Linked DNA regions of Homo sapiens: region 2 is linked to region 1. The links come from fine-mapping of genetic effects on gene expression. A gene starts in region 1. The other region holds a variant in brackets. All regions are shown on one strand. Distances are from middle to middle. Region 1 holds the start of SUPT7L (SPT7 like, STAGA complex subunit gamma). Region 2 overlaps LOC105374378 (a long non-coding RNA gene).

Region 1 (5,234 bases):
AATCCCAATACTCAGCTTCATAAGGCTTTTCCTTTCCTTCAAGTTCCAGCTCAAAATCCTTATGCTCATAAAGCTTCCCTGTGGAGTGCGATCGCTCACGCCTGTAATCTCTACACTTTGGGAGGCCGGGGGGCGGGGTGGGGGGGGGGGGTGGGGGGTGGATCACAAGGTCAGGAGTTCAAGACCAGCCTGGCCAATATGGTGAAACCCCATCTCTACTAAAATAAAAAAAATTAAGTTTCCCAAAGATCTAAGTCAGTGCTGTCCAACAGAAATATAATGACAGCTGTATGCGTCATCTTAAATTTTCTATTAGCCACATTAAAAAATTAAAAGGAAACAGGTAAAATTATTGTCATTTCAACATGTCATCAATATAAAAATATCATGAAAGAGATATTTTACATTCTTTTTTTCAGACTAAGTCTTTGAAATTCAGTGTGTATTTTGCATTTACAGCACACATCAATTGCAACTAGCCACACTGCAAGTGCTCAGTAACCACATGTGGCTAGTGGCTACCATATCAGACAACACAGGTCTAAGTCCCCAGTGACTGTTCTCTCTTCTCCAAACTTTCACTCTAGCATACTTATGGTTTCTAGCTTTTGTTTGGCACTTAGCACAAGTAATTTCATAATTTTTCCTATCTTCCCAACTATATATTAATGCCATCTTCTACCTTTTTATACTCCCATCTCCTGAATATCCATTTTCTAAAATATCTGGTGTTAAAGAAAGTTTATTATTTTGGCTAAGGGACCAGCTTTATCTGATTAGATATTCCACATTTCAGGATATCTTCACAAAGTACAAAAAATTCAAGAGAATATCCTATATTGAATAACATCCCATTTATTTGATTGAATAGAGTTCCATCCCCTCCAATGATAATCACATAGCACAAGGTCAGTACTTAATAAATATAAAATTTTAGAATTGTAAAAATAATAATTTTATGCTTAGGACAAGTTTTGAACAAGAGAGTGCATTAAAAATAAATTTTTAAAAAATCCAAAGTGCCTATAAGTCAATTTCTTTACAACAGTAAAGTCAGTGAATCTCTCTGGGTTTTGGTTACCTCATGTGCAAATTGTGTTTGCCCTATCTATCTCAAGGAGCCATGAAAAGCTGTATGATTTAAAAAAACATTTAAGGGTACCACTTGTAATGAACTTAAAATATTAACCTCCGGCAGCAATTTTAATTTCTTACCCATTCCCCAGGTGCAACCCATCTCATCATCTTGGCTACCAGCATTTATCTTCCTTTCAGAGGTATCCATTTCCTCTTCTTCATCTGAGTCTTCTCCTAGCATCTTCTTCTCCAACAATATTTGCTGCTGCTTGCGCAATTCCTTCAACTGTGTTACTGTTAACTCGGATTCTGCCTCTCGGTCTTCCTCTGGTCCCTGATGAACCAAGGAAAAAAAGGTTATTTATTTATTTAGAGACAGGGTCTTGCTCTGTCGCCTAGGCTGGACTGGAGTGCAGTGGCTGTAATACACCTCACTGCAGCCTTGACCTCCTGGGCTCAGGTGATCCTCCCACCTCAGCCTCCTGAGCAGCTGGGACCATGATGCCTGGCTAATTTTTTTTTTTTTTTTTAAGAGACAGGGTCTTGCCATGTTGCCCAGCCTCCTCTCAAACTCCTGGGCTAAAGCGATCCTCCCGCCTGGGCCTCCCAAAGTGTTGGGATTACAGGCGCGAGCCACCGCGCCTGGCCAAACAAGTTATTTTAGAGTTCGGGATTGTGAACATGACTTTCAGAAATATAGCAATGTGTACAGCCGTCTGAAGATGATAGGCCAGACTTGATTCCTTCACTTTCGTAATCGCTGAGTGGGAGATTCTTCTTCCTCATCCAAAGCTTAAGAAGCACAAGAACGCAGTCCAATGAACCCGAAATTTCAATTCTAGGTTTTTCTACCTACCTGCAGGATAAAGAGCCGGGTGCTGCCTCCAAAGCGAACAACATGCCCAACGTGGACTCGACAGTAGGTGCGAGGTGGGATGCGAGTTTTGTTGAGAAAAGTGCCATGGGTGCTTCCCAGATCGTAGAGGTAGAAGCCCGGCCCGTTGCTGTCGCATTCTCCGTCAGGGCCGGACGCCCTGTGCTGCAGCACTGCGTGGTACCGAGACACCGAAGGGTGCTCCAGGCACACGTCGCAGCCAGACAGCCTCCCGAAAAGGCAGTAACTCGTCCCTTTCAAGCTACGGGTGCCAAGGATAGTGCCGCCCTTCAGGGTCTCTAAGCTGTAGGGGGCTGTGGCAGGGCCACCCCATGGAGGCTCTTGGTAGGGGGGAGCCCGGGCTGGACCGCCAGGGGAAGAAACCGCTGTCGGGGGGCGCGACTGCTCCTCCTGTAGACTCCTAAAATCACCGCAGTCCGGCTGAGGAGGAGGGATGTCGGGCTCCCCAGAATTGGAGTCCTGCAACGCAGTGGGCCCTTCCTTCTGTACCTCCTCAGGGTTTGAAGAACTGCTGGCCGGGGCCTTACTCCGCGCCGCTGGGGACACCGGCAGAGCTGGCTTCTTGAAGTCCCCACTGAGGTCTTGCGACGCCAGGGTCTCTGACTGAGAGAGAATGTCAGCCATCCTCAACCGGTGCAACTTCGAAATCCGCTCCTTCGAAACCCACCCTTCGGTCTTTACGTTCCTGTCCACGTCCCACTCTCCCAAGCTCCCAGTGGCGTCTGTAGGCGGCGATGGTGAAGTTGCTCCTTCACGACCTGGAGCGTTGCGAAGTGGTGCTAACATGAGAAGGTCATAATATGAGAAAAACAAAACGGTTATCGGGATGCTGTGCAGAACGGGGACATATTTAGAGGTTACAACGGGATCGTAATGACTTCCTGTTGCATAGCTTGATTGAGAAGAAGCGCTTCCGGCGGTCTTAGATCACTAATCAACAAACCAGCTTTCGGGGTCTGACGCGATCCTTGCCTCAGGCCTCTCGAGGTCCAGACAGCCGCCCAGCCCGCTCTGCGACGCAGCAGTGAATAGTGTGGTACCTCCTTGTCTCGGTTCAGGTCCAGACCTCCCCGTCTTCCGGCTGCCCTGAACGTCAGGCGACCTCAGGACCCTGTGATTGGCGCCTGCGCCGGCGGACCGTGACCGAGGAAACCCCTGGAGGGACTTGGGCATTCCTTGGGCTCCGTGCCTGTTCTTCGTGCTCCTTTCGGTAAAGTAAGGGAAGAGGGCGACTTTTTTGTTATTTCGTTCATTCATTTATTTTTTTTCTGAAATTATTAAGGCAGAATAGTTAAGTGGTTAAGAGAGCAGACTCTGGAGACTGTCGATTTTTGACCTCGCCATTTGTGACATTGGGCAAGACACTAGGCCTCAGCCCTCACTCTGAAAAATGGGGATAAGATTATTAGCCTCATAGGGTTGTTGGAAGAATTGAATCAAACAATAAAGGCCAGCCAGACCGGTGGCTCATGCCTGTAATCCCAACATTTTGGGAGGCTGAGGCGGGAGGATTGCTTGAGCCCAGGAGTTCCAGAGGAGGCTGGGCAACATGGCGAGACCCTGTCTCGCCAAAAAAAAAAAAAAAAAAGAAAAAATCCAGGTTTGATGGTGCGCGCCTGTAGTCCCAGCTACTCCAGAGGCTGAGGTGGGAGGATTGCTTGGTCCCAGGAGGTTGAGGCTGCAGTGAACCATGACTGCACCACTGCACTCCAGCCTGGGCTACAGAGTGAAACCCTGTCTCAAAAAAGAAACAAACAAAAAAGGTGAAGTCTGGCATATAGTAAACATTCAACAAATGCCAGATATTTCTGTGTGCCTGGCCCTGTAACAAGACCACAGCCATAAGAAATAGACGGGCAGAAAAAATCTATTGCGATAAGTACTAATTAAAATCCAAGGATAACTGCTGTGACATAGACTTGCAAAGCACTGTGAGAATAGAGAAAGGGAGATGCACTGGTGAAGTGACGGACGGTGGGGACTTATGCTGTACTTAAAAATGAATATGAGTCTGCCAGGGATGTGCAAGGTTGGCAGAGCATTTCTGGCAGAGTTCACAGCTGAAAGTGTCAATTGTGGAAATGTACAGCATTCTCAAGAAACTGAGTAGTATAATGTTGTTAGAACAAAGGTAGTCATTTCACCCAGGAAGCTCCTCCTTTGTGCTTCCAGTACCCCAGGTCCATATACCTCTAGAACAGTACTTACCATGTTTCATATTGAAATATTCTGCTTCTGTTTCTCTTCCTCACTTCAGGGCAAGGATCTCACATTATCAGTCTTTGACCGACACAGAATGCCTGGCATTTGATAAATGTTTGTTGAACTTGAAGAGACATATGGACAATGAATCTGCAAAGGTGAGTTGAAACCAGATTGTGAATTTTGTTGAATGGTAAGCCAAGGAATTCTGACTTTTTCCAATAGGCAATGGGAAGCCATTTGATTTAAGTTTTAAAAAGAGTAAGTCTAGCAGCAGTGTAGAGAATAGATGACATACAAAGAGAGATTGGAGGAAGGGATACCAGTTAGAAGGCAGCAGAAATCTCTCACGTTCTATATGTCAAAAGTTGAAAGCATAATGCCATTTAGATTAATGGTTCATAAATTTTTCCACCAGGATCATGCCTAAGACACACAGAGTAAGAACCACTTCTTATTATCTTTAACCCTACTAGTTTTTCTCCTATTGATCCAGCACAGATGTATCAAGATACCTTATCATGCCTTGCTTATTGTTCAGGATTGAGCGTGATGGTAGTTCTGGTAATGAGTTAGTGAGTGAGATGGGAAATAGGGATACTAGAGCTCCAGATGCTGTTGTAGCTATTGGTCCACTAATGACCCAAATTCTACCCTGTGGTTCAGTGTAGTAGGAATTGTCATAGTATGACAATAACCAGCATCTAACAGTTACATTTCTCTTAATTTATTTAGGGAGAACACCTTTGGTCCTACAGTTTTGCTGACACTGACATTTTTCTAAGTGGTCACAAATAGCCTACTTTTTACATAAATAACTGGCTAGACCTCGTATTTTTCACTACAGAAGCCTATAATCTAAAGTTGCCAGGATTTAAACACATTACTTTTAGGTTATTGTCTACATTTATCCTGAGACCTCTTCTCTTCTTATTCCAAAATGTTGAGATACTGGGGAGAGATACCAATATCATCAAGCCAGACCAACAGAAGTTCCTTCGATTTGCTCCCACGGGAGTTCCGTCTGGTGGAAGTCCATGACCCACCCCTGCACCAACCC
Region 2 (5,491 bases), 65 kb before region 1:
CTGTTTCAGTAAGTGGATCATAGCAGGAGGCAGGATGGAATAGCAGCGTAGCTAGGACCAGATCCTAAGGGGCCTTAAATGGCATGCCAATATTTCTGAGTACTGTGCAGTCTTCAAGGGTTACAACAGATCACGAACCTTCCAGTGCTTCCTCTCATAACACAGTATTTAGATTCCCAGACTTTGGAGCCAGATCGGCTGAGTTCAAACCCTGTCTGTGCAACTATCAGCTGTTCAGCTGTGTGACCTTGGGCAAGTTACTTAACCTCTCTGAACCCTGATTCCTCCTGCAAACGGTGGGAAAAATAATAGAACCAATCTCTCTGGGTTGCTGTAAGGATTAAATTAATTTACAGTGCATGTAACATGCTTACAGCAATGTCTGGCACACAGTAAGCACTAAGTATTTGTTGTTATTTGTCATCTACCATCACCTCAACTATCTCTTCTAGCAGCTGAATCTTCTGTAATTTAACCCCAAGGAAGTTTAAGAGCAAGGTGGGCTGCCTAGATCCCTGGTTTGCAGGAGCGGGTTGTTTGTCAGAGCTGGAGCTGGGGAGCTTCCAGCCAAACCCTGAGACTTGGGGAGGGGTCAAGAAAGGAGCCTGCTTACCAACCACTTCTGGGGAGACCCTAACTAACATCCCGTCCCTCCTCCCCACTGTCAGGAAGGCATCCTCAGGGCTGGGACCGGGCCCATACAGCTGCCTTCTCTCTTGAGGAGAAAGCTGTGATGGAAACCCTTTTCTCTAGGGAGGAAATGGGCAGGGAATGACATTTGTGTCCCCACCAGTATGCAAATCACCTTATGAGACAAATGATTTTGCAGGAAAACACATCCTGTTTCCTCTAGAACATTTCCCTTGATGTCTGGGGGGAACTGGTTGGAATGGTCAAGGTCACAGCAAGTGTTCAGAAAGCTCCTGACCACTGTCCCCTGTCCCGGAGAAACCAGGGAGTGGTAGAGAAGGGACTAGGCTTGGCAGTCCTAGGCTTGGCAGCTGACAAGGAAACTGGCCCTGGGCACACAAGCTCCCTCGCCAGGTTTTCCCAGATGACAAGGGTGCAGGGAGGCCTGGTGGAGCAGCGTCTGGGGAGCCAGGGGTCCTGGCTTCTAGGGCTAGCTCAGCCCCTCACAGGGAGGCCTGGTGGAGCAGCATCTGGGGAGCCAGGGGTCCTGGCTTCTAGGACTAGCTCAGCTCCTCACCCACAGCATGACCTTCGACAAGTCATTTCCCTCTGTAGACCTGAGTTTCCTTATCTGTAATATGAGAGGGTTAAATGAAATCAAGTGTTTGTAACTTGGGGTACACAGATCCTTAAATCATCGATGGGCTTCAGGGGATTGCTGCCACCCCTCAAGTGTATGCAAATATACAATTGTGCATGTGTATATTTTTCTGCAGAGGTGTGCAAAACTGTCATCAGTTCACAGAGGGATCTATTATCCAGACAAAAGTTTAGGTGGTCTCTGGGCTCCCTTGAGCTGGGTGCTGGGCTGATGGAAGTTTCTCAAGGCCAAGGATATGCCTTTAACACCAGCGAGGCATAGTTCTGGCACACTGTAGAGCCTCAATGTTTGTTGAATGAATGATGTAGAGGCTCAATGTTTGTTGAATGAATGAATGACACTCATCAAATGCTGGGTCATGAGCACAGCAAAGGGCGGAGATGGATATTGGCGCAGGGTCTCAGCTGTGGGAGTGAAGTGGGACAGCGAGAGGGCTAGTAAGGGGTCAGGGTTTGGAGAGAACAGGAGAGGTGTCTAAGAATGTAACCTGAATCTGCTCAGTCCAGGGGCTGTCTGGTTTGGGTTTCTAGTCACTACCAGGCGTGCACACCTCTCATTCCCCTTTGTTCTTTATAGAAGACTCGGCTAAGCCAAACCCAGCCCCAGGTTCAGCAACTAAATTGGTTTGGTTGCAGCAATTAAAATTCTCAAGCTTCTCCAACCAGAAAATCCATCGAACTTGAAGAATGTAGCCTGGTCTCCAGGGGTCACTGGAACTGGTATGGAAGTGAAAGTAAAAGCAGGGGTCAGCCTGTCTGCCTGCCAAGGATACCTCCAGCCCTAATGGGCCCCTACACCCTTCATTCAGGCGCTGCCCCCACTTGGACTTTTGGCTGAACTCTGTCACCCTCTAGTACCTTTGAGCTTTTCCTGTCCACTCATACCTTCTTCTTGGCCTACACATATGCACTGGTTTCTACACTGGTCTCTCTTGTCCTTAAAATGCCTTCACCAGTTTTTTTATGATCTGGGAAAACGCTTGTGATTTGATGATTAGGATACACACACACACACTCACACACACACATGCACAATTGTGTATCTATAGTAGTCTCAACCCCAAAATATAAAACATGTAGAAATTCATATACACAAGCATAATGTTTTGATGTTTGCGCTGTCTTAAGACCATTCTGTTTCTCCCCTTCTGTTACAAAGGAAATGTGCTCAGATGAAAGGGATTCTGAGAACTCAATAGCAGAGGAGGCACAGAGGCTGAGGGCATCTGTATGGCAGGCGAGACACCCAGGGAGGATAATTGCATGGTCCAAGACCCAGAGGCCCCTGGGCAGGTACAGGCCTGGCTAAAGGAAGCTCATGTAGTTCCCTGG[A/G]AAGGCCAAGCTTGGGAAAAATGGTTTCAGCTGGTCAGGCCCTTTGAGGTAGGACCTCAGCCCATTGGAAGGAGTAGGGGGATGGGGTGGGTACACGACCCAGCAGAATCCATTCCCTTGGAGAGGGGTAGCAAGGGCTGGGGCCAGGCCTGGGGTTGATGACTGAGCTCACTCTGCCTGGAGAACTGGGGCAGACCAGCTTTCCCCCAGGCAGAGGCCAGTACAGGGGAGGAGGATGAGAGACTGTAGGGATTCCCAGTTAGTCTCCCCAGGCCTCACCTCAGCAGGCTAGATACAGTCGGGGAAGTCAAGCATGGGGGAAATGCCTCCTCTCATTTCTCAAGGGAGAACTGGAAGCTGTTTCCCCCTTTGCACTTTTCAGTCTGGCTTCCAGCCTCATCTGTTTTCTGGAACCATTCTCTTTCCAGAGCCCCAGAGGCCTCCATCCAATAGCACTTGTGTTAACACTGCCAGTGCCCACTTCCTGGAACCCTCTGCATCCTTGGCCTTCCTGGCCTCAAGTTCCCTGTTGTTCTTCCCCTCGGGTCACCCCTTCTTCCTTTACTGTGCCCTTTACAAGCCCTTCCTTCCCTGCTGTGGGAACCCCCAATGCTCAGGCCTTGGGATTCTGCTCTTCCTTCTCTACGGTGGGCTCCCTTAGAAAAATTAGCTCTCTCTGGGTTTCAACTGATGCTTCCACAACAACGACATAATGGATAGTAGAGAGACATGGTCACTGGGGAATAGATTTTTTTAAAAATAATATCCTCCACTTTGGGAGGCCGTAGGCAGATCACCTGAGTTCAGGAGTTCGAGACCAGCCTGGACAACATGGCAAAACCACATCTCTATTAAAAATACAAAAATTAGCCAGGCATGGTGGCATACGCCTCCCAGCTACTCAGGAGGCTGAGGCAGGAGAATTGCTTGAACCCAGGAAGCAGAGGCTGCAGTGAGCTGAGATCATGCCACTGCACTCCAGCCTGTGCAACAGAGCAAGACTCTGTCTCAAAATAATAATAATGATAATAATAATAATAATATCCTCACTTTGCAGAGAGGAAAGGATTCAGATGAGTTAGGAGACCCACCCAAGGGTCACTCACCTTAGGCAACTCGCCCTTTTTACCACCTTCTCTTCCGTCGTGGCCCCATCCCCACAGCGACCTATGAGGCTGTAACACACAGAAGGAAGCCCCACTTAATCAAAAGTAACTGGGCCAACTCCTCCTGCCCAACCCCATGCCATGGCCAGATCATTGTCAAGCTGTCCCAGGCGTGCGTCATGGTCACTCCCTGATCTGACTTGAACATTGGCCTTGGGAGGAAAACGGAGCTGTCAGTCTGACTTCCTCTTCCTTTCTCCCCTCTGCCTCTGCTGAGAGCATTGAGGGAGGAGTCATAGTTCTCTTCATAGTCATAGTTTCCAGAATAAGGCATTTCCATAGGCAGCCGGGTGCGGTGGCTCACGCCTGTAGTCCTAGCACTTTGGGAGGCAGAGGCAGGCAGATCACCTGAGGTCAGGAGTTCCAGACCAGCCTGGCCAACATGGCGAAACCTTGTCTCTACTAAAAATACAAAAATTAGCCAGGCATGGTGGGGCATGCCTGTAATCCCAGCTACTCGGGAGGCTGAGGCAGGAGAATCACTTGAACCCAGGAAGCTGAGGTGGCAGTGAGCTGAGATTGTGCCATCGCACTCCAGCCTGGGCAACAGAGCGAGACTCCATCTCAAAAAACAAAAACAAAAACAAAAACAAAAAAATCATAGGCTATAGTAGTGCTGTTGCCATTTGACTAGTGTCTATTACACTGAGCATCTACTATATACCCAGAACTTTCCTGGGTTCTAGGGATATAGCAATGAGCAGAACAAATTCTTTTTTTTTTTTTCTTTGAGGTAGAGTCTCACTCTGTCACCTAGGCTGGAGTACAGTGGTGCAATCTCAGCTCACTGCAACCTCTACTTCCCAGGTTCAAGTGATTTTCGTGCCTCAGCCACCCAAGTAGCTGGGATTATAGCCATGCGCCACCACACACAGCTAATTTTTTTGTATTTTTTAGTAGAGATGGGGTTCGCCATGTTGGCTAGGCTGGTCTCAAACTCCTGGCCTTAAATGATCCACCCACCTCAGCCTCCCAAATTGCTGGGATTGCAAGCATGAGCCATCGCACCTGGCGCAGAACAAATTTTTATCCTATATATTGTAACAGAACTGTATTGAACGAAGTATTTCAGCCTTGGATGACACATACTTAAACCCATGAAGATGATAAAGCCCACTATCGAGAAGACTTATTGTTTTGTCTGCCCAGAACAGCACCTCCCTTCTTTGGGGGAAATCCTCCTTCACCAATTCAGCTGTAATTATGGAAGGAGCTGCCAATTATTGTGCCAATTATTGTGTATTGCTCCAGTGTTCACAGGAATGAGTGTGAAACCCAGGTTGGGCCAGTCACTGAACCCTAGGAGCCCCTTGGCCACAGTGATTGGTCTAGGAAGAGTCATATGGTCTGGGTTGAACAAATCAGAATGCCTTTCCTTCCATAGCTTTTTCCTTTAAAAGTTTTAAAATTAATTTTAAATACATAAATTATACCTGAATACGTTATCACTGAAAAAGTTTAAACCTGACAGTCTCCTTCAATCTCAACACCTAATCTTAGCTTCACCAGAGATAACCAAGGTAATTTAGTGAATCTAGACCTTTTCTATGCATTTTCATATATTTAGAAATATGTTATAAACATATATAAATATATATTATTATTTCAAGGTTTTGTTTTGGTTTTGGTTTATGCTTGAGTGATACCATATTGTATCTATATACTGCAAATTACATTTTTCATTTACCAAGATGTCTTAGGGG

The links. PIP is the estimated chance that this variant, and not a neighbour inherited with it, causes the effect. A credible set is the group of variants that fine-mapping cannot tell apart.
Region 2: its variant is the best candidate, but not a certain one, in a credible set for the expression of SUPT7L in whole blood (TOPMed, PIP 0.60).

Annotation. Positions count from the first base shown.
Region 1 is chr2:27,661,277-27,666,510 of GRCh38, reverse strand. It overlaps SUPT7L (SPT7 like, STAGA complex subunit gamma), which reads left to right and starts at 2,897. Exons shown (of 6, transcript NM_014860.3): 1 at 2,897-3,182; 2 at 4,230-4,332; 3 at 5,123-5,234. The coding sequence starts at 4,319. SLC4A1AP (solute carrier family 4 member 1 adaptor protein) reads right to left here and starts at 2,622. Exons shown (of 14, transcript NM_018158.3): 1 at 1,934-2,622; 2 at 1,216-1,411. The coding sequence starts at 2,596.
Region 2 is chr2:27,725,923-27,731,413 of GRCh38, reverse strand. The region is part of intron 2 of LOC105374378 (a long non-coding RNA gene); the gene reads right to left. Among named protein-coding and RNA genes, the nearest start is that of LINC01460, 13 kb to the right of the region's middle. The variant A/G (reference allele first, on the strand shown) is at 2,623.